Homo sapiens: one gene and its partners. The protein of the gene in region 2 purifies or fractionates together with the protein of the main gene of each other region. This does not show direct contact. Each region holds a gene or a part of one and is shown on either strand. Other genes may lie near its edges. The genes, in order: PGM1, GRHPR and SUCLA2.

What was found.
Region 1: the proteins of GRHPR (region 2) and PGM1 fractionate together in Homo sapiens (co-fractionation; 3 studies listed by BioGRID). This does not show direct contact.
Region 3: the proteins of GRHPR (region 2) and SUCLA2 fractionate together in Homo sapiens (co-fractionation; 2 studies listed by BioGRID). This does not show direct contact.

What each region holds. Positions count from the first base shown.
Region 1 is NC_000001.11:63,652,314-63,659,421, forward strand, and holds part of PGM1 (phosphoglucomutase-1), read left to right. Parts: intron 1-2,018; coding exon 2,019-2,153; intron 2,154-7,108. UniProt on the Homo sapiens protein: Catalyzes the reversible isomerization of alpha-D-glucose 1-phosphate to alpha-D-glucose 6-phosphate. The mechanism proceeds via the intermediate compound alpha-D-glucose 1,6-bisphosphate.
Region 2 is NC_000009.12:37,425,596-37,432,703, reverse strand, and holds part of GRHPR (glyoxylate reductase/hydroxypyruvate reductase), read right to left. Parts: intron 6,783-7,108; coding exon 6,710-6,782; intron 6,167-6,709; coding exon 6,050-6,166; intron 4,221-6,049; coding exon 4,132-4,220; exon of another isoform or gene 3,863-4,131; coding exon of another isoform or gene 3,772-3,862; intron 2,973-3,771; coding exon 2,868-2,972; intron 2,194-2,867; coding exon 2,058-2,193; intron 697-2,057; coding exon 566-696; intron 1-565. UniProt on the Homo sapiens protein: Enzyme with hydroxy-pyruvate reductase, glyoxylate reductase and D-glycerate dehydrogenase enzymatic activities. Reduces hydroxypyruvate to D-glycerate, glyoxylate to glycolate, oxidizes D-glycerate to hydroxypyruvate.
Region 3 is NC_000013.11:47,991,253-47,998,360, forward strand, and holds part of SUCLA2 (succinate--CoA ligase [ADP-forming] subunit beta, mitochondrial precursor), read right to left. Parts: intron 5,772-7,108; coding exon 5,591-5,771; intron 1-5,590. UniProt on the Homo sapiens protein: ATP-specific succinyl-CoA synthetase functions in the citric acid cycle (TCA), coupling the hydrolysis of succinyl-CoA to the synthesis of ATP and thus represents the only step of substrate-level phosphorylation in the TCA.

The DNA of each region.
Region 1 (7,108 bases), on a different chromosome or scaffold from region 2:
AAAAATAGATGAGGCATTCCCAGACTTAGAAACGTTGACCATCGTCATTCGCAGCACATGAGTGGCACCCCACCTAACACAGCAGTACCTGGCAAGACGCCACAGTTTAGGACCTGGAGCATCTCTAGATGTGGACAGAATTGTTAGTGCTTCCCTTACTGTGTGCCGGGTACCCTAGGCTGCAGGCTGGGTCAGGCTTTCTCCTGGCTTCTCATGAACACTTACGCACCAGGGTTCTCTCACCTCTGCTTCTGTTGCCTGTTGTCACAGAGTAAACTCATCTCTCACAATTCATAATAGAATAAAGAGCAGGATGAAGATTCTGTTACAACCTCCCAGTTTACTTTTTTCCAATTGACCCAGATTTTTGGCCTGGTCCTTGTCAAGGCATCTCATAGGGTTTGGAAGGGCCGGGCCGTGGGATTTACTGGAGGCTTCCCTCTGGGGAGCAGGCAGTGAATGGATGGATGGGCCACAGCAACCCTCAGTGCCTGGAGTCTCCCCTCCTCAACTTCTAGCACAAGTGGTTTCTCATCCTTGTGCCTGTTTGCCATTTGTGAGAACTTGGGGTCCAGTTTGGATGATTGTAAATTATGCCTGAGATAATTAGAAGAGAGACCTGTGGTTGAGGAAGAAAGGGGTGTAGAAAAGGAGTGGAGCTGAGGGATGGCAGAGTGGGACAGAAGTTTGTGTCATTAAGCCTTCAGAGACAGAAGGGAAGTCAAGGAAAAGTAAATCCCAGCTCTGCAGTGCCTCTGGCATCTGCCAGGAGGGAGAAGAGGTGTAAAGGTGTGTATAGGAGACAGTGGCCTAAGCTCGAGAGCTGCCCTCTGTGCTGTAAAGAAAGCAGCTGCCCCACTTTCTGTAATCAGAAAATCCAAGCATTTTGATGTGAGACCAGATAGGAGGGAAAAATATGATCCAACATATATAGATAGAACATCTGCAATCTAGTGAAAAGAATTTTAGAGGCTTCAAGTTGAAGCTGTGAAGAAAGGAGACCAACCCTGGTGTGTTCCTAGAAAGCAAGAAATGGTCAGTGAAAATGGACCGTATCCTTCCCATAGTGACTAACTGTGGCATATCCTCTGTGTATTTCATCTACTGTCTTCACTAATCAGTGCTAATGAATGGCACCATTAAACACCAGATGGGGATTGGTGACGAACAGCAGGTGAAGAGCAGCATCTTTTTGGTCAGTCTTTGGTGTTATGCAAGGTTCTCCTTTTTACAGAGGATGGATAGACTCATAAAGACTGAAGAGTCCTCAGGCAACTTCTGTCCCAGCCTTCTTCCCTCAGGTTGGGAAATATCTACCCCAGAGTTCCCACACATTTTTCCCCAAGTGAGAAGATAATTGATGTCCAGAGATACCGCTGGGGAGGAAAAAGAGAGGGCAGCAGAGAGAAGGATGGGCTTGGCACTTCACACGGACCTCGCTTTGGGTCCATCAGGGATTGGCAGGAGATTGGCCACTGGCTCCTGCTTGTTAGGTTGGGAATAGCCAGTCTCTGCCATTTGGGACCTCTGACTTCCTGTTCTCTTTTGAGGACCTTTGCTAGTGGTTTGTAAGAGTCCTTCCCCTCATCTGCCTGAAACCTCTTCAGCTCTGGTTTCAGCCCCTTTGGTCCATGTTTCCCTCTTGATCTGGGGGCTGAATTTTTGCATCTAGCAGCTTTATGTGCTTCATTATTAAGCTTCAAACTGGAATGGTTAGTCCATAAATCACAGGGAAGTGGGGAGAGGAGGGAAGCCCTCACATCACCCAGCATCACTGAGGTCAGGTCTCCCCTGACCCTGGAAATGCTTCTCCCACCGTAGCTAAGCCCCCATCAGCTGGATGCAGAGAGGGTGACGGAAGGCAGGCTCACAAGGTGCAGCTGCTGCCATTTATCAAGGATTTAACCCTCCAATGAACAAGTATGGATGAAATTACATCCCCAAATAGACCCCTCATAATTTGCCAGCCTTCAGTCTCCCAGCATTTGGGGAAAAAAATCTCTGCTTATCTTTTCCAGGGCTTGCGCCTCATTTTCACAGATGGTTCTCGAATCGTCTTCCGACTGAGCGGCACTGGGAGTGCCGGGGCCACCATTCGGCTGTACATCGATAGCTATGAGAAGGACGTTGCCAAGATTAACCAGGACCCCCAGGTAACGCCCAGCCCTGTGCCCTGGTTAGTTCTTTCTGTTCAAGGGAATGATAGTTTCCCATTGAGCCTGTGTTTCAATGCCCATTTCTCAAATGACTCAACAAGGTACCAGCTGTGCTTACTTTCTTCCATGTTTCTTTCTCCATGTCAACATTATAGATAATAATTATAATAATAAAAATAGGGAGGCTGAGGTGGGAGGATCACCTGAGCCCAGGAGGTCAAGCCTGCAGTGAGCCAAGATCACACCACTGCACTTCAGCCTGAGCAAGAGTGAGACCTTATATCAAAAATTAATTAATTAATTAATTAAAAATAAAAAATTTTCTGAGCATTTATGGTTTGCCAGGCTGTGTTGTAAGCCCATTATGAAAATATACTCATTTAATTCTCAAATAACTTAGACTGTTATTCTCCCTGCTACAGATAAGGAAACTGAGGCACAGAAAAGTTAAGCAACAGTTAATAGGTTTACATGCCTAGTAAGGATAATGAATCTCTCTTTTTTTTTTTTTTTTTTTGAGACAGGGTCTCACTCTGTTGCCCAGGCTGGAGTGCAATGGCACAATCTCAGCTCACTGCAACATCCACCTTCTGGGCTCAAGCAATCCTCCTACCTCAGCTACCTGAGTAGCTCGGATTACAGGCACGTGCCACCATGCTCTGCTCATTTCCTTTTTTTTTTTTTTCTTTTTGTAGGGAGGAGGTCTTAGTACATTGCCTAGGCTGGTCTTGAATTCCTAGCCTCAAGTAATCCTCCTACCTCAGCCTCCCAAAGTGCTGGGATTATATGTGTGAGCCACTGCACCCAACCCAGGATAATTGGTCTTTAAATCAGCCCCTCATCTGGTGTTCTGCTCTGTCTGCAGCATTTTGTTGCTTTGTTTGGTCTGATCACCTGCTTGGGCAGAACACACCACTGGGTCTTAGATTTGGTGGGGGCAGGGAGAGGCAGTTTCATGTGTCTTCACAGAACAGTCTGCAGACCTGCAGCTTGGTAAGCTGGGTTCCTCAGCCATTCCCCCAAAAGTCTTCAGAAGTATATCAGAGTAAGGAGGGACTCTGGGAGCAAAGGGTGGGACAGTGAACTTGAAGGACAACCCCCAAAAATGGAGGAGCCAAGGGGAAGCAGTGAAGGACAGGACAGTTTCTTTAAGTGTTTTTCACAATCCTTATCTCAACCAGAGCTCCATAGCTTAAAAAAAAGTTGGGGAAGTGTTGTGGTATATTAGCCCCTTCTTGGTGATTCACAGCATACAATGCAATGCACCATAAAGGCTCCAAGATTTCGGACATGGTGGCCTGCACCTGTGGTCCCAGCTACTCAGGAAGCTGAGGCAGGAAGATCACTTGAGCGTAGGAGTTCTGGGCTATAGTGTGCTATGCCTGTCGGGTGTCTGCACTAAGTTTGGCATCAATATGGTACCTCCCGAGAGGGGAACCACCAGGTTGCATAAGGAGGGGTGAACCGGCCCAAGTTGGAAACAGAGCAGGTCAAAACTCCCATGCCGATGAGTAGTGGGATTGCACCTGTGAATACCCACTGCGCTTCAGCCTGGTGACATAGCAAGACCCCATCTCTAAAAAAAGAAAAGGAAAGAAAAAAAGAGGGTGCTGAGAAGACTTGCAGTAAAGGTGCCTGTTTACATAGCATTTGCTGAAGGACATTTCTCCAAAGAAAACATACAAATGGCCAACAGGCGTATGAAAAGGTGGTCCACATCACTAATCATCAGGGAAATGAAAATCAAAACCACAATGAGCTGTCACCTCACACCTGTTAGGATGGCTGTTCTCAAAAAGACAAAAGATAACAAGTGTTGGGAAGGATGTGGAGAAAAGGGAACCATCAGACACTATTGGTGGGAATATAAATTGGTATAGCTATTTTGGAATAACCAAAATATGGAGGTTCCTCAAAAAGTTAAAAATATTTTAGTACTAATATACGATCCAGTAATCCCTCTTCTGGGTATATATTCAGAGGAACTGAAATAAATATGTCAAAGAGATATCTGTTCTCTCTTGTTCATTCAATATTATTCACAATAGTCAAGATATGGAACCAGCCTAAGTGCCCATCTACAGATGAATGAAGACATTGTGGTGTGTGTGTGTGTGTGTGTGTGTGTGTGTGTGTGTATACCACAATGGAAAATTATTCTGCCTTAAAACAACAAAAACCAAAATCTTGCCAATCTTGCCATTTGCAATAACATGGATGAACCTGGAGGACATTATGCTAAGTGAAATAAGCCAGACACAGAAAGGCAAATACTGCATGATTTCACTTGTATGTGGGATCTAAAAAAAGTGAATCTCATAGAAACAGAGCAGAAAGGGGCTTACTAGGGGGTAGTGAATGGGGAAAATGGAGAGATATTGGTCCAAAGGGTACAAAATTTCAGTTATGTAGGATGTAGCAGTTCTAGAGATGGAATGTACAACATGATGGCTATAATGAATAACACTTGAAATGTACTAGGAGAATAGATCTTAATTGTTCTCACTATCACCACCACAACAAAAAAGGTAAGTAGGTGACAAGATTGATAATGTTAGTTGGCTTGACTCTAGTAATCAGTTCACTATGTATTTGTATATCAAGACATCATATTATATACCTTAAACATAAACAATTTTTATTAAAAAATTGAAAGTAAAATAAAATAAATAGCATTTGCCATGCTTATTTTTCCACAAAGGCTTTTTTCTTTTAACACCTAATTAAAATCCTGTGAAACTCATTTGGAAACCCCTGGCATAGTGGTTTTGAGCAAAGTTAAAGAGATCTTGTTTTAAATTCTATTCCTGCCACTTAATAACTGTGTGTCCCTGGGTAAGTTGTTACAATTTTATGAATCTTGGTTTCCTTGTCTGTCAAATGGCAGAGTAATACCTACTTCATCTAGTTGTTACCGGGGTTTAAGGAGATAATAAATGTAAAATGTTTAAACACTGTGGCTGGCATATAGGATTAACTTTTCAGAATAAGCAGCACTCTTAGTTTTTTTAGTCTAACTTTAAGTGTAACATAATGCTATTATAACCATTTTTAAGTATATAGTTTAGTAATGTTGTACATATTCATATTGTTGTCCAACGTATCTCTAAAACTTTTTTCCCCCAAAACTAAAACTCTGTACCCATTGAACAGCACCTCCCTGCTTCTCCCTTTTCACAATCCCTGGTACCACCTTTCTCCTTCCTGTGTCTGTGAATTTGACCATTGTAGGTACCTCACATGAGTAGTATAGTTGCTTTTATTACAGAAAGTGGGAGATGAGAGAATGCTTCACTTTTACATTTTTTCCAGTGGCCAGGCCCCAGTTTCAGTCATCACCAGTACCTTGTTGTGTTGTAGGCATCCCTAAAACTTCAACCAAAGGCAATGGGGTCTGCATTATAGACACTTAATAGCACAAGAGAAAAGGAAGAAGGAAATTGTGTTTGTCTTTTGATCATCAAGATAAATGCCTGGCACGTGGTAGATTCAAAGAGTGAATGAAATTTGTTTCCTCTGAACCATAGTCCTCAGCAGGTGGAATGGCAGTGGATGGTGTGAGGTTCCCACAATGCCCAGGTGTATCACCATCTAGCCGGGGAGCTGCCTTTCCTTATTCTGCAGCTGCTAGGCCATCAGCACTTTGTGGGGACTGCCCAAGCCCTAAGGGGAAATGTGGTAGTTTCAGCAGGTGGAGTTGATTCTCCTTTTCCAGGTATAATGGATCGGTGGAGATTTAGATAAGAAAAAGTAGCATTCAGCAGTAGAAAATGTACTACTCCTGGCTCTGCTATTGAGTCATTTAGTCAAATCACTTCATCTCTTTGGGTATCAGTTTTCTCATCTGTAAAATGGGCAGTTCAACCAGATTAGTAGTTTTTTTTTTTTTTTAATATTGAAAGCATTTATTAAGCAACAGAATTCTCTCTTTTTTTTTTTTTTCTTTAAGCGAGAAGTAGATGTGGGGAGGGGTTGTTGCATTTTTAAAGATTCCTGTATTAGGCCGGGTGCGGTGGCTCACGCCTGTAATCCCAACACTTTGGGAGGCCAAGGCAGGCAGATCACCTGAGGTCGGGAGTTCAAGACCAGCCTGACCAACATGGAGAAACCCCATCTCTACTAAAAATACAAAATTAGCCGGGCGTGGTGGCGCATGCCTGTAATCCCAGTCACTAGAGAGGCTGAGGCAGGAGAATTGCTTGAACCTGGGAGCCAGAGATTGTGGTGAGCCAAGATCGCAGCATTGCACTCCAGCCTGGGCAACAAGAGTGAAACTCCATCTCAAAAAAAAAAAAAAAAGATTCCTGTATTAGTCTGTTTTCACACTGCTGATAAAGACATACCTGAGACTGGGCAATTTACAAAAGAAAGAGGTTTAATTGGACTTACACTTCACGTGGCTGGGGAAGCCTCACAATCATGGTGGAAGGCAAGAAAGAGCAAGTCATGTCTTACATGAATGGCAGCAGGCAAAAGAGAGAAATTGTGCAGGGAAACTCCTGTTTTTAAAACCATTAGATCTCATGAGACCCATTCACTATCATGAGAACAGCACAGAAAAGACCCACCCCCATGATTCAATCATCTCCCACCGGGTCCCTCCCACAACACTTGGGAATTATGGGAGCTACAAGATGAGATTTGAGTGGGGACACAGAGCCAAACCACATCAGTCCCATTGGGAACAGTGTGGGAAAGAAATTGGAAGATGCACAAGTGGATGTGGAGGCACTCACTGCTCCAGGTAAGAGACAGGACATTGACTTAGCAAGACTTAACAGCAGGAGAGTGGAGAGAAAAGGGGGCCATGGAGAGAGATTTAGCGGGGAAAAGTCATTGAGGCCTGCTCATGGACTGGGCATGGGGAAAATGCAGAGGAAGATGTCAGGAGCAACTCCTAGTTGTTCACTTTACATGAAAGACTGTAGTGTTGATCCACTGAAATAGAAACT
Region 2 (7,108 bases):
CCCACTTTGTTGTTGTTGTTGTTTTGGAGATGGAGTCTCACTCTGCCACCCAGGCTGGAGTGCAGTGGCACAATCTCGGCCTACTGCAACCTGTGCCTCCTGGGTTCAAGCGATTCTTCTGCCTCAGCCTCCCAAACAGCTGGGACTATAGGCATGCACCACCATACCTGGCTAATTTTTGTATTTTTAGTAGAGATGGGGTTTCACCATATCGGCCAGGTTGGTCTCGAACCCCTGACCTCGTGATCCACCCACCTCAGCCTCCCAAAGTGCTGGGATTACAGGCATGAGCCACCACGCCTGGCCCACTCTTTTTTTTTAAACAAATCCACTCACACCTACATTCTGTTCCTTTAGGGACAGAGACCCAGCAGAGCATGCGCAAGAGGACTGCTCCTGTCATACACCCATGTCACTGACAACATAAACATTTACGATCCCTGGTGTGTCCCTTTGGGTTCAACACCTGCTCACACTAGCTCCACACCCGGCCCCTTGGGACCCCCTCAAAAACACTGGTCCTGCAGGGCAGCAGGGAGTTTGCATCAGAAAGTGCAGTTCTTACCACAGTTCTTCAGGGTCAGGAGAGGGTGGTTTGTAGGCAGTGGTTCTGGGCTCGTCACATCCAGTCCAGCAGCTGCAATCTTACCACTGGCCAAGGCCTGGTACAGGTCGTCCTGGTTTACGACGTCGCCCCTGGGAATGACAGTGGTGACATGGGTACCCCGAAGATCCCTCCGCCCAGGCCACCTTTGAGGCAGAACAACCTACAGAATGAATTTTTCCACTCACTTGGCACTGACTTTTAAAGCAGTAAGTCTTAGGTATACTTACAGTATGTCTGTAAGTCTTATATACTCAGAGAACTCCAGCCCTGCCTCCTTCTAGCTGTGTGACCTTGGGCAAGTGTCTCAAATTCTCTGTGCCTCGAATTATCTGTGTCTCAAATTATCTACTCTGTGAGATAAGGAGAATACCACCTAACTCCCAGGCATGTTGGGAGGATTAAAGCTTTCTTACATGCTCTACTGCATGAACAGGGCCCAGAAGGGCATCTGTGTTAGGCCCCATCCAAGTGTTTCTGATCTGGTTGACCCCCAGACCCCCACTGAGAAGCACCACAGTGTGCTATCAGGTACCTGTCTAAACCAGGGCAGAGGAACGAGCACACCCCTAACCACAGCCATCAAAGGGAGCGGCGACTGAAGGCAAGAAGTCATCTTCTAGAGACTGTATATTGTGCACTAAGTAATACTTGTGCACTAATGAGTAATACACGGTCCTGGGCTGTCCTGGGTACATGCAGGCACCCAGTACACGGCAGCTGTGACTGCTGCCAGCCAGCAGTGCGAGCCCTGTGGTCCTGCATGTTTCACTCTTCCATTCCCAGGTCACCTGTTTTGTAGCTAAATGTTGGTAATTACAGGTACCTTTGGGGTGGACGAGTCCTCAGGATGACCTCACCCAATCCCCCTTCCCCTAAACTGATGTAAACAGGCTCAAGGGGCACCAGCTAGGAAGGGCTTGGAGTGGCAGAGAAGGAAGGTCTGACCTCCATACATGCCCAGTGGCCTGAAGGCACCCCTAGGGACAGTGTGAGGAGCTACGACCACGTGAGTTTTAGGGTCTGTCCGCCCAGGAGCATAAGGTTCAAAGTATCACTGAACCACAGCCAGACAAAGCCAGGCTCAGCAGTGTGGGAGGCGGCCTCCAGAGGGCCCTTCAGATCCTCAAGTCCAGCCCTTTGTGGTGGAGGATAATGGGCCTGCAGAGGCTCCCTGGGAACACTCCCTGAAGCCACGCTGCTGTGTGCCAGGCCCCGCCGGGTGGGGGCCACTGCTGAGAAGCAGACAGGCCAGGCCCACTCTGACGGCTCTTCTTCCCTGTACGGAGGTCTCGTGTATTCCCACGAATTTCTGAGTTGGTTGTTTGGTTTATGGAAACCAGCAAGCTCAGCCTGGGGTCTCACCAACAACCCACGGGGAAGAAAATCTCCAGATGGCAGCAGTGGGGATGGCTCCTCTCCAGGCTTGCTGGGTAAGGTGGCCCTAGGATACCTGCTGATGTTGATGAACACAGCTGTTTCCTTCATCTTCTGGAAGAAGTCCTTGTTGCAGAGTCCCTCGGTTGCAGGTGTTAAGGAGCAGGCCACGACGATGAAATCAGATTGGGCAGCCAGCTCAGGGGTAGACACTGAGGGAGGGCAGGACTCCATCAGGCACTGAGTCCCAGGCTAGGGACAACCAGATGGCGGGAGACCAGCCCCTTGCTCCCGACTCCCTAACAGAAACTCCCAAGATGCTTCCTGAAGGCCGAGTCTCTACCTGGACAACTCTCATGAGTGCACAAAGTCAAATCACACACAGTGGGATCTGGACCACTCTGGCTTTAACTACCTTCAGGGCCCAAAGTGCCCAGGGGCGTGGGGAATGCTTGAGATCCAGCCTGCCATCTGCTCACCAGGCTGTGGACCCGCCAGGTGCTGGATCCGCCTGGACTAAGGGGCGCACACAAAGGCTAGGGTAGTGCTTGCCAGTTTATGAAGGAAAAGACAGTGAAAGTGCCCAGCCCTTCCTCACACCCACCACCATCCCCGCTGCTCCGCCCACAATGGGGAATGGTAACAAAGGACTCTGAAAGACGGGAGCCCTGGACTGCTCTGCTGGCTCGGAGAGGACCTGGGTAAGTCCCTGTGCTCCCTGAGTGGGCCAGTGTCCAGGGGCAGGTAGATTAAACATCTACCAGACAGCAGCCCCTGGACATGCCTGGAGCTCCTGCCCTCTGCCTGAAAATGCCACCATTGAGAGAAAATACAGCCTCTCAACTGGGCACAGATAGGCTCCTGTGGAAATCAAGGCTTCACTTACCAAACTCTGCCTGGAATTCTGCTGCTTCCTCAGGCCTGGGCTGGCGCCCTGTGTACAGAAATCTCTGGACACCGAATGGTTTCAGACGCCGAGCAATGGCCTGGCCTAGAGCAAGGAGAGTCCATGTCTCGTTCCCAGTCCCGCAAAGGGTAGGGACACCACCCAGCATTTCTGGAACAGCGGCCCTCAGGGCAGACCCTTTTCATCAGCACAGCCCGAGTTGCCTGCTCCTGTCTCCTCCAAAGCGGGTGGGGGGCTGGCTGCCCCACTGTAACTAGCCCCCAGCCAGCCCACACTGCCCCAGGGATCTGGAGACAGCACCTCAGCTCCCCTGAGGCTGTGACTGGCTGATGCTGTCCTCACATGGTCCAAGCCATCTGGAAAGCCACTCAGGTTTTTCCTAACCTCTGAGAACTGGAGAGGTTTTCACAAGGGAGACACCTGGTCAAGCAGTCCCCTCCTTTGTCCTGGACCCTCTGCTTCTGTGAATGCAGTCTCAGACCCCATTTGACTTTTTGGTGGCACTGCCAAACTGCCAGCTCACCCCAAACTTACAATTTTCATGTAAGCTGCTGCTGAGACAGATTTGTACAGTTGGATTTTCAGGCTCAGAACGTGCCCCAAAGCTGTTGGGTTCCTCCAAGCAACTCTCTAGTGAGAGGCAGGGCTGTTCGTTGGCTAGACAGGTTCTCCACACTCTCCACCCTCACCCGCACCCCTGCACCAGGCAGGATGACAGAGAACCACCAATAGATAGCTGCTTGGCTAGGCTCACGCCCTTCTGCCAGGCTTCTCCAAATAAGGGCCACTGGAAGAAAAGTGTCTCTGCCTCATCTGCAGAACTGCAGATCAACTCTGCCCACTGAGCCCTCCGGCCCGAGTTAGGGCTTTGTGAGTCACATACCTTCCAGAACGCAAGCCGGAGTAGGTGTCGGGGGAATGGGCTCTCTCACGGTAACCACTCCTAACGGCCCCAACACATTTGTAGTCTTCATCTGTTCTTTATGGAGCCGGAATCATGAAGCCCCCTGACCCTTAGGCAACTTGCTTTTATCACCTGGTGAGTTCTTAAGGAATCCTGCTTTGGTTTATTTATGTATTTGCCTGTGTTTTACAAAGCTGTATCCCTCATTAGAGATATCTCTACTGCAAGCAAAGTGCCCTGACAGCATGTGGGTCTTCTCAGCCTTCAGACACGTGGTGCCAGGGATGCAAACCACGCTGTGAGAGCCGGGGCGGGCAAGCGGGCCGGTGGGAGCCTCACCTATGCGCCCCAGCCCGATGATGCCGACAGTGCTCTGCGTGAGTCCATAGCCACACAGCCAGAGGGGCTTCCACGAGGTCCAGCCACCACTGAGGGGAGAGAGAGGGGCAGGTGAGAGGCCCAGCCTTGGACCAAGATGGGGGCCGCTGAGAACCCGGCACCTCTGACTGTGGTCCAAGGTATAAACCCACCCTCCAGGTCACGGACTGAGAGTGGGATGAGGCACTGCCACTCGGCACTGCAGATGAGCAGCAGAAACGACTCCACCTTTAAAGCCACCAGAGACATAGAACTTGAGGGCGGGAAGGGGCCTTACTGGCTCTCATCCTGTTTTGCAGATGGGAAAACAAACCAGAAAGGGTGACTTGCCTGAGGTCACACAACCAGGGAAGAGTTGAGAGCAACAGGCTGCAAACTCAGGATTTATGATTCCAAAACAAGTTCTCTTGGCACTTTAGGGCAGCAACAAAGAGTACAGCCACAGGGCCCACCCTGCTGCCCTGGGCAAGAGATGGAGCCTGCCCTGAGCCACCTCCAGTAGATGTGATGACTCCCCAGACAGGACAGTGAGCAGGACTCAGCACTGTCTACTCTGCTCCATGCCCCGTGCCGGGGCCCACGCTGCTGGCCACGCACTGTGAGAGCCTGCGTTTGCACGCCTCCCACCTTGACTCGGGCCAGTCCCTCCATCTGCACATGGAATGCTTCCCCCAACTTTTTTTTTTTTTTTTTTTGGAGACAGGGTCTTGCTGTGTCGCCCAGACTGGAGTACAGTGACATGATCTCGGTTCACTGCAGCCTCTGCCTCCTGGGTTCAAGCAATCCTCCCACCTCAGCCTCCCGAGTAGTTGGGACTACAGGCGTGTAACACCACGCCTGCCTAATTTTTGTATTTTTTGTAGAGACAGACTTTTGCCACATTGCCCAAGCTGTTCTCCAACTCCTGAGGCTCAAACAATCTGCCCGCCTCGGCCTCCCAAAGTGCTGGGATTACAGGTGTGAGCCACCGTGCCCGGCCAACTCTAACTCTTGATATACAGGCCGAAATCCCTGATCTGAAACCTTCAGGCTAGATTTTAAAACTGTTTGGCCTTTAGAAAGGCAGCATGGCGCACGTGGTAGATTCCACACATCACCCTCTGCAGTGTCTGGGCAGCAGCCTGTTTTAAAAGTGTTACATCTGCAGCAAAACTTAGGAAAGTCACATTAAATGGGAGAAATAAAAGCCTTAAATAGTCTCCTGTTAGTATGAAAGAACTTTCAGCTGTCCGAGCTTTTTAGATTTTGGGATCTAAGGGATGGTGGACCTGCAGCTTTCAGGACTCAAGCGGACGCCCACCTGCTACTTATTCTGTGAAGCCCTCCCTGATCCACACTCTCCCTGCCAGCCCTCACCCACCAGCAGAACTTGTTTGTCCTCCCTCATCCTCTTCTCTCACCACTTCCCTTTCTGCCCTTATTGCAGCTCTGCTTTGTGCTTTATTTTAGCTGAGTCCTCACTCAATGGGGCACACCTGGGGTCAGGGACTATGCGTGGGCTGGACTGGCACAGTGATCAGGATCCAGTGCTGAGCAGAGCCAACGTTCCTGCCAGGCGTTCACTTATTTTTCTTTTTTTTTTTGAGACAGAGTCTCACACCGTCACCTGGGCTGGAGTGCAATGGTGTGATCTCAGCTCACTGCAACCTCTGTCTCCTGGGTTCACATGATTCTCCTGCCTCAGCCTCCCAAGTAGCTGGGATTACAGGGACCCACCACCACACCCAGCTAATTTTTTTTGTATTTTTACTAGAGACGGGGTTTCACTATGTTGGCCAGACTGGTCTCGAACTCCTAACCTCATGATCCGCTCACTTTGGCCTCCCAAAGTGCTGGGATTACAGCCGTGAGCCACCGCACCTGGTCTGCGTTCACTTACTTCTTCACTTCCTCGATGGCCTCCGGCAACCGGCGGCAGGTGGTAAGTAGCAGGGAGACTGCGAGTTCGGCGGTGGTATCTGTCAGGACATCTGGGGTGTAGCCAACTCGGATCCCACTACGAATCAGACATCTGGTGGTAACATCAGCCTCAACCATATTTACCAATGTCTACTGCTGGGACATTTCCATGGAGTTACTTTGCTCCCTCTTTGATCTGCCTGCCAGGAAGCTCAGAACTATAAATGAGCACTCAAAAACGGGCAGTCCTCATTCCTATTTAGATTATCTCCCACTTTGGAAGGATATGAAGATGGAAGATCAGGGTTCAGGGACTGAACAAGTAACTTAACCTTTCTGAATTTCCTCATCTGAAACAGAAAGAATAACACCTGCCTTTGCTACTTCAAGGTATTGTTGTGGGGATCAAAAAAGATAATGAATGTGAAAGGGTGCCACCTACACAGAAGTTACCCACTGTTTCTGACTGCTGGGGTTTATTGTAACTGACCTGTGCACATGTGGACAGATTCTATCATCAGCCACCTCACATTCTCCCTGAATGGCCGAGGGATATGCAGTAAAAACAAATCAACAGCTCTTCTTTCTCTCATAGCCACCCCTCTCTCTAGGCCCCCTCCAGATCCCAAGCTGCAGTTACCGCTTCTTGATTTCATCCAAAGCCAAGTGGTCGATGCCCACAGACATGGTGCTGATGACTTTGAGATTGGCCCCTGTTGTGCAGAAAGTGCATTGTTAGTATCTTTCCTCGAGGAACTCAAAGCCACAGCACTGGGGACTATCATGGGGACACCGCTTATTATTGTTTTCTTAGAATAAGAGGCTGACATCTCTGTTCTTCAGTTAAAACTCTGAATAATCCCCTTTGACAGCCTCAGACACTGCAGTTCAGGGAGGTTAAGTGGCCTGGCTCAGTCACAGGCAGAGCCGGGTTCACCTCAGGGCCTCTGCCACCAAGGCCCCGCTCTTACCCACTGGACTGTCCACCCAGCGAGGCCTCCGGTCTTCTTTAGCCACGCTGGGGCCTCCCCCATGGACA
Region 3 (7,108 bases), on a different chromosome or scaffold from region 2:
TACCCTCTACACTTTTTATCTCCTAGGCCCTCCTGGTTGCTCACTCTGTTCCAACTGCACTAATCCCCTCACTATTCCTGGGCATGTTCCTGCCTTCAGGACTTGGCTCTAATGCACCCTCTGCCTAGAATACTCTTCACCAGGTGTCCATGTGGGAAAAGCCCCCGATCCTTCAAGTTTCTCTTTAAATCTCATGTTGCCCATGAAGCTTACCCTACTAACCTGCCCACCTGTGACCAATCCCCCTTACCTACTACACTTCTTTCCGCCATAGAATTCATCATCTTCGTACATATGTAATTCTCTTACATATATCATTTGTTGTTTTGCTTCCCCATCAGAAAAGAGGCCCAGGAGGGCAGAATCTTTGTTGTATTCATAGATGTTAACAAGCGTCTGGGAGAGTTCCTAGCACATAATATTTTGCTGAATGTTGAAAAAAAGGAACATTTAAAAATATGAACAGAATTCTTATAAATCTAGATTTCTTCACTGCTCTTACGAAAACTCCCAATGGGAAAAACTGGGTGCACAGTACTACAACTAGAGCTGATTAGAAAAAGTATCTTGTTTAGATAAGACAAACCCTTTTCAATTACCCTGTCTCTACTATTCACAAATGTATCACAACTAATATTAGGTAACAAATAGAAACAACTCAGAAATTTCCTTAAAACCAACAATAACGTTCTTATTGAGAATACTACAGGTTGTCTCTGAACCATGGCAAATTAGAGAGTTTGTGCCCAAACGGAAGGGAGCAGCCACTATTTATTCCACTTGTTTCTGTTTACCTGTCCAGTCCTGATTTTCCAGCACTTTAAATATTTGTTTATATCCGAAGAAGAGAACTACAAGGCAAACAGTGCAAATGTAATGTAAAAAATGGTCATAGTTACACTGTGCTTTACTGAGCTAAATTCAATCATTCCTATTCATTAAACTGGGAACTTAACACATTGACCTATTAAGAGTAACGAAGCTCTATTTTTTCAAAAACACTTGGCAAGACAGAAGGTTCTTCTCTTCCCCGCAAAGTGTCAATTTCCTTTCTTTAGGAATATAAAGTCTTTAAGGGCAAAAGATGATTCTTCGAAAGTTCCTTCTAAAAAAAAAAAGCCCTTCACAACGAAAGCAAAAAAAAAAAAAAAAAAAAAATTTTTCATGAAATACAGTCTCATCAACTATCAAGAAAGGAAGAAAGATTAGAAGAGAAGTCTGAGGACAACTGGTCGAAACAAACATTTTATTCAATTCCATTAATTCACTCAACAGGTTCATCTACATACCAGACACTGTGCTAGCGTTGTAGATACAACAGTGAGTGAGACCTCTCCTGCCCTCATAGAACCTGCAGTCTTATTACATTTGGCACTGCTCTAGTCAGACAAGATCTTTTTTGGATCCCAAGACTGTCTCTAAAACACAATCACTATCCCAGCTACCTTTAGTCACTCACAAACATTTTAAGCATTCCTTGTATACAGGTATCTAACTAATAAATATTTAAAAGAAAGAAAGAAGGTAAAGTCCTATTATATGCCATTAGAAATCTCCCTCCGGGCTGACATTCATTAATCAGCACCCTTTACATGTATCTATTCAACCAGATAGGGATTCCACCTTAAATATACTAGAAGCCAAACTATCTTTCTATAGTCAATAGGGAAATTATAAAAATTCTGCCAAATCTGTGCCCAGGCGCAGTGGCTCACGCCTGTAGTCCCAGCACTTTGGGAAGCCAAGGGTGGGTGGAAGGCTTGAGCCCCGGAGTTTGAGACCAGCCTGGGCAACATGGTGAAACCCCATCTCAAGAAAAAATACAAAAATTAGCCAGGCATGGTGGAGCACACCTATAGTCCCAGCTACTCAGCAGGCTGAGACGGGAGAAGTGGCTTGAGCCCAGGAGGTCGAAGCTGCAATGAGCCATGATCACACCACTGCACTCCAGCCTGGGTGACAGAACAAGACACTGTCTCAGAAACAAAACAACAAACATTCTGCCAAACCCTTACTAAAATCATATTTCCTTGAACTATGAACTGTTAGAGATAATTTGCTCTCAGAACTGACCCCAAATAATATCTACTACATTTATCTGTGCTAATAACCATCCCTTTGATAATCTATTCCAGAAACTTCATGATCTTCAAGCTCACCAACCTTCATTTTGGGGACTCATATAGTCTTTTAAAATATTAGAATTAGATTTCTTTCTAACCATTCCTCCATTCCTAACCTCAATTATTCACAGCAGGTAAAACTTGCCTACAGGACAATGCCTCTCAACTTTTTTCACATCATCACACAAACAGAAAATGATGGACATGGTAGGAAATACTGGGTAAAGAGGCTCAGTGGCCCCAAACCCCATGCTAACTCAACTTCTCCTGCCACCACAGGACTGGGAAGAAACAATAGTTTGGCACACCTGTAAAGCATTTATGTTCTATTATGTCACTTGTTGAGCAAAGCGCTGAGTTAAGAGTTTTTATGAAGGCCAGGCCTGGTGGCTCACGCCTATTGTAATCCCAGCACTTTGGGAGGGTGAGGCAGGTGGATCACCTGAGGTCGGGAGTTTAAGACCAGCCTGATCAACATGGAGAAACCCTGTCTCTACTAAAAATACAAAATTAGCCGGGGTGGTGGCACATGCCTGTAATCCCAGCTACTCAGGAGGCTGAGGCAGGAGAACTGCTTGAACCCAGGAGGCAGAGGTTGCTTGAACCCAGGAGGCGGAGGTTGCGGTGAGCTGAGATGGCGCCATTGCACTCCAGCCTGGGCAACAAGAACGAAACTCCGTCTCAAAAAAAAAAAAAAGAGTTTTTATGAAATGAAAATTAGCATTTTATGAATTTTGCAGAAAGTCAAAAAGCAAAAATCACCCTGAAGTAATGAAAACTCAGCATTGGGAATTGCTAGCTACATGAACAAAACCAAGTGTATTTCTAAGGTCCCTCATTCTACACCTTGTGCAACTAGATCCCATAATCGTTATCTTTTGTTATCAATGACTCACTAAAAACACAAAATTGGGCTGGGTGCGGTGGCTCACGCCTGTAATCCCAGCACTTTGGGAGGCCTAGGCGGGTGGATCACAAGGTCAGGGGTTCGAGACCAGCCTGACCAACATGGTGAAACCCCGTCTCTACTAAAAATACAAAAATTAGCTGGGCATGGTGGCGGGCACCTGTAATCCCAGCTACTCAGGAGGCTGAGGCAGGAGAATTGCTTGAACCTGGGAGACGGAGGTTGCAGTGAGCCGAGATCGCGCCACTGCACTCCAGCCTGGGCGACAGAGTGAGACTCCGTCTCAAAAAAAAAAAAAAAAAAAAAACCACGAAATTGTCCTCCATATTTTCATAGACGTTTCTAAATTTATCTTTTAAAAACTAGCATTTCTGCTCCTCTAGATTTAAATTTCCTTGTTAATTATTAGTCTCCCTCCCACACTATAATCATCATTTGCAATATTCTTTGACAAAAAACACACTTTCTAAATGAACAAGGTATCTGTTCCAAGGGGCTCAAAATCAGAGCTGCCTACCTGCTTCTTATTACTTGTGAGTTCTGGTCCCAGAGAACTTGCCAGAAATACTCATAGTTACAGTTTATCCTGCACATATTATTTCTTTCTTCTGTACCTAAGAATCATTAAGTTTTTATAAGGCATAATCAAAACAGATTGGCATCTGAATTAATCCTATTCATTTTATGAAAAAGTTTCTATGCAAATTATTTTTTCTGACAAAACAATGGAATTTCACTAAATGAGAAAATATACGGAAAACTAGTTAAAGAAACCAATTATAATACTCAAAAAATAGACACAGTGGCATGTGCCTGTAGTTCCAGCTACTCAGAGGCCTAAGTAGGAGGATCACTTGAGCCCAGGAGTTTCAGACTAGCCTGGGCAACATAGTGACCCTATCTCTAAAAAAAATTTTTTTTTGGAATTTTAAAATCTGGAAACAAGAGGAAAACCATTTTTACCGACGTAATTATATATAAATCAGGTCCCATTAACATTAACCATGCAGAAGTTCCAATTATAGGTCACCATTAACAAAAATTTCACCACAATTAGTATGAACTTATACAAAGCTTTTGCTTAATAAAAAGTTTGCTTGTAATCTGATTTAAAATAATTCTTTCTGATTAACAACAATAAAAACAACAAAACTATAAATGAAAAATCATGCTTCCAAGTCAAGGAAATCATGGCCATCTCATTCAAAAACATAGCTTATATGACAGTTTTCTGAACTTGTATATATCCTTAATTTTGAAAGAAAAATCCATTCTAGATACAAATAAGTACTACACAAGATGAATACTTTTAAAATTTCAATCACTTTGAAAATGCTCATCTTTCTTAAAAAATATAAAAGCAAAGTATTCACCAAATCATATTTAAAGCCTATTAATTAAATGTACATAGAAGAGAGATTATTTATGCTAATCTACGTAAAATTGGTGGGATTTAAAATACTGCTAAAAAGAAACTGCAGTGTATAGCTAGTACATCAGCTCATGGTTTTCATGCTAAATCTTTAAAAATGTAAGCTTATTTTCTGAAATCAAAAATTATTTTTTGATTAAGAGATTAATTCAAATTGACAAAAGCTATTAAGGCTTCTGTTATCAATAAAGGAATCTGCTAATAAACATGGGCAACTATTAAATTCATTTAATATTTATTCATTTAGTATTTATTGATTACCTAAGTGTCAGGCATTCTTCTAAGATTTTGGGATATATCAGTGAACAAATAAGAAAAAGAAACTCGGGCTGTATGTGGTGGCTCACACCTGTAATCCCAGCACTTTGGGAGGCGGAGGCGGGCAGATCACGAGGTCAGGAGTTCAAGACCAGCCTGGCCAACATAGTGAAAACCCGTCTCTACTAAAAATACAAAAAAATTAGCCGGACATGGTGGTGGTGCTTGTAATACCAGGTACTCGGGAGGCTGAGGCAGGAGAATCCCTTGAACCCGGGAAGCGGAGGTTGCAGTGAGCCAGGATTGCACCATTGCACTCCAACCTGGGCAATAAGAATGAAACTCCGTCTCAAAAAAAAAAAAAAAAGAAAAGAAAAAGAAACTCTGCTCTCAAGGAGTTTACATTCTAGCACTCTACTTTTTGTTCCCCTTTGGTTCCATATTTTTCATGACAAAAAAATGGAGGGGGAAGCACGGACCTCTCCTTATAAGCACATAAACAGCTAAGATTTTCCTTCACCATTTCCCTGAAGAATCATCACAACTGCCATCCTTTAAGCTCCAGAGTAGTTAGAGTGGTAGTAGTAGAATTCCCTTCCCCATAATTATATTCCAACTAAAAACAGGACTTCAGCTTCCTAATGCCAATGTAAGTGACTCCCACGTCACTGGCATTATGGGTGCTCATAATAATAATAATAATAATAATTTTAGAATTTCAATAATAATAAAGTTCTACCTTCTATTTTAAGCAAAGAAAATGTATTTTTTTTAAAAAAAAGCTAAAAGTTGTTATCAAACCAAAAACAAACTTCAAATCTTCTCAGAGCTCTCATGTCAAGGTGGCAAAAGCTTTTCTTAATTTAGTACCTAATTTTTTGGCAATTGCATAAGCTTCATCTGGTGACTTTGCCACATATCCTTTGGGAACGGAGACACCAGCTTCTTGCAATAATTCCATACTCATGTATTCATGTAGTGAGAGATTCCTTTGCTGTTGCTGCTGTACTTGGAGTCCATGGTTATTAAACAATCCAGAACTTCCCAGAACCTAGAAAGATTGGGGACATATTTATATATGACAGTGATTTGGCAGTCACTCTTGCTAACTACTTGGTTCTTCATAACTATAACAAAACTGTTACATTACATTAGCAAAGTACAATATTCAGAGTACCTGAATTACAGCATAAAACTAAAAGCTAGCCTATCAGCTAAATATCACTGTTACCACTGTCATTTTAATTATTTCCTCATCATCTCTATTCCTTATTTCAGATTTCAGCTTTACTATCATATCTCCAATGATCTACAGGGCAGTTCTACCTCAATGCCAAATTCAGCGGATCTAAAACCAATCTCATCTTTTCCACCAAACCAAAAATCCTTCCCAATTTTCTTCTCTCTACCATTCCTCCACACCTAACAAGTCACCTGGCACTAGATATGTAATAATAAAATGATTTGATACCATTACTCTTTCATACACTCGATATTCAAAACCATGGCTTCATCTGTAGTGGATGTTGCAGTATGCTGCCCAGATCTCCCTGGCACTCCCCATTCAGGACCAAGGCATTCATAGCCCCCACTGCTGCTGCTGGGAGTGCTGGTTGCTGACAGCTCTCAGCCAAGTCCTCTTACTGGAGCCTACTTGCCCAAAGTCACACCTCCTTCCCACTGTCAGCCTGCACCCAATGACTGGTCAATGGAATCACACATTTAAATGTTATCCACGCATTTCCATAATCTCAATACAGAATGCAGTATACTGAAACATGGTTCATATGAAACACACAGTGTCCTAAGAATTAAATTTAAAGAGGTCATAGAAACAATCTGTTTCTTAAAGTAGGTTCATAAGCTTTTGCCTCAAAATTAACTGGGTGCTTGTAATCTGCAGATTCCTGAGACCCATTCTCAACTGCACTATTAGAATCTCTGGACTGGGCCCAAGGAAATCTGCATTCATAACAAGTCACTCAGTTGATTCTTAAGAACCCTACAGTTATGAGAACTACTAGTCTTACAAATCAATCATATATAATAGCAACTTATTTCTGATCCATTTAGCAAGCTAAAATCCTTGGTAACATTTGACCTAGGTAGCTCAATTCCTTGATTTAGTGTCACTTCAATATTAAAAGCCAGCAACCAAGCTGGGCACAGTGGCTTACACCTATAATCCCAGCTACTCCTGAGACTGAGGCAGGAGGATCCCTTCAGCTCAGGAGTTTGAGACTGCAGTGAGCTGTGATTTCACCACTGTCCTCCAGCTTGGTCAACAGAGCAAGACCCTGTCTAAAAAAACAAATAAATAAGTTAAAAAAAAAAAAAAAAAGAAAAAAAAACCCAGCAACCTCTCAAACTACTGTTTAGTATACCTCC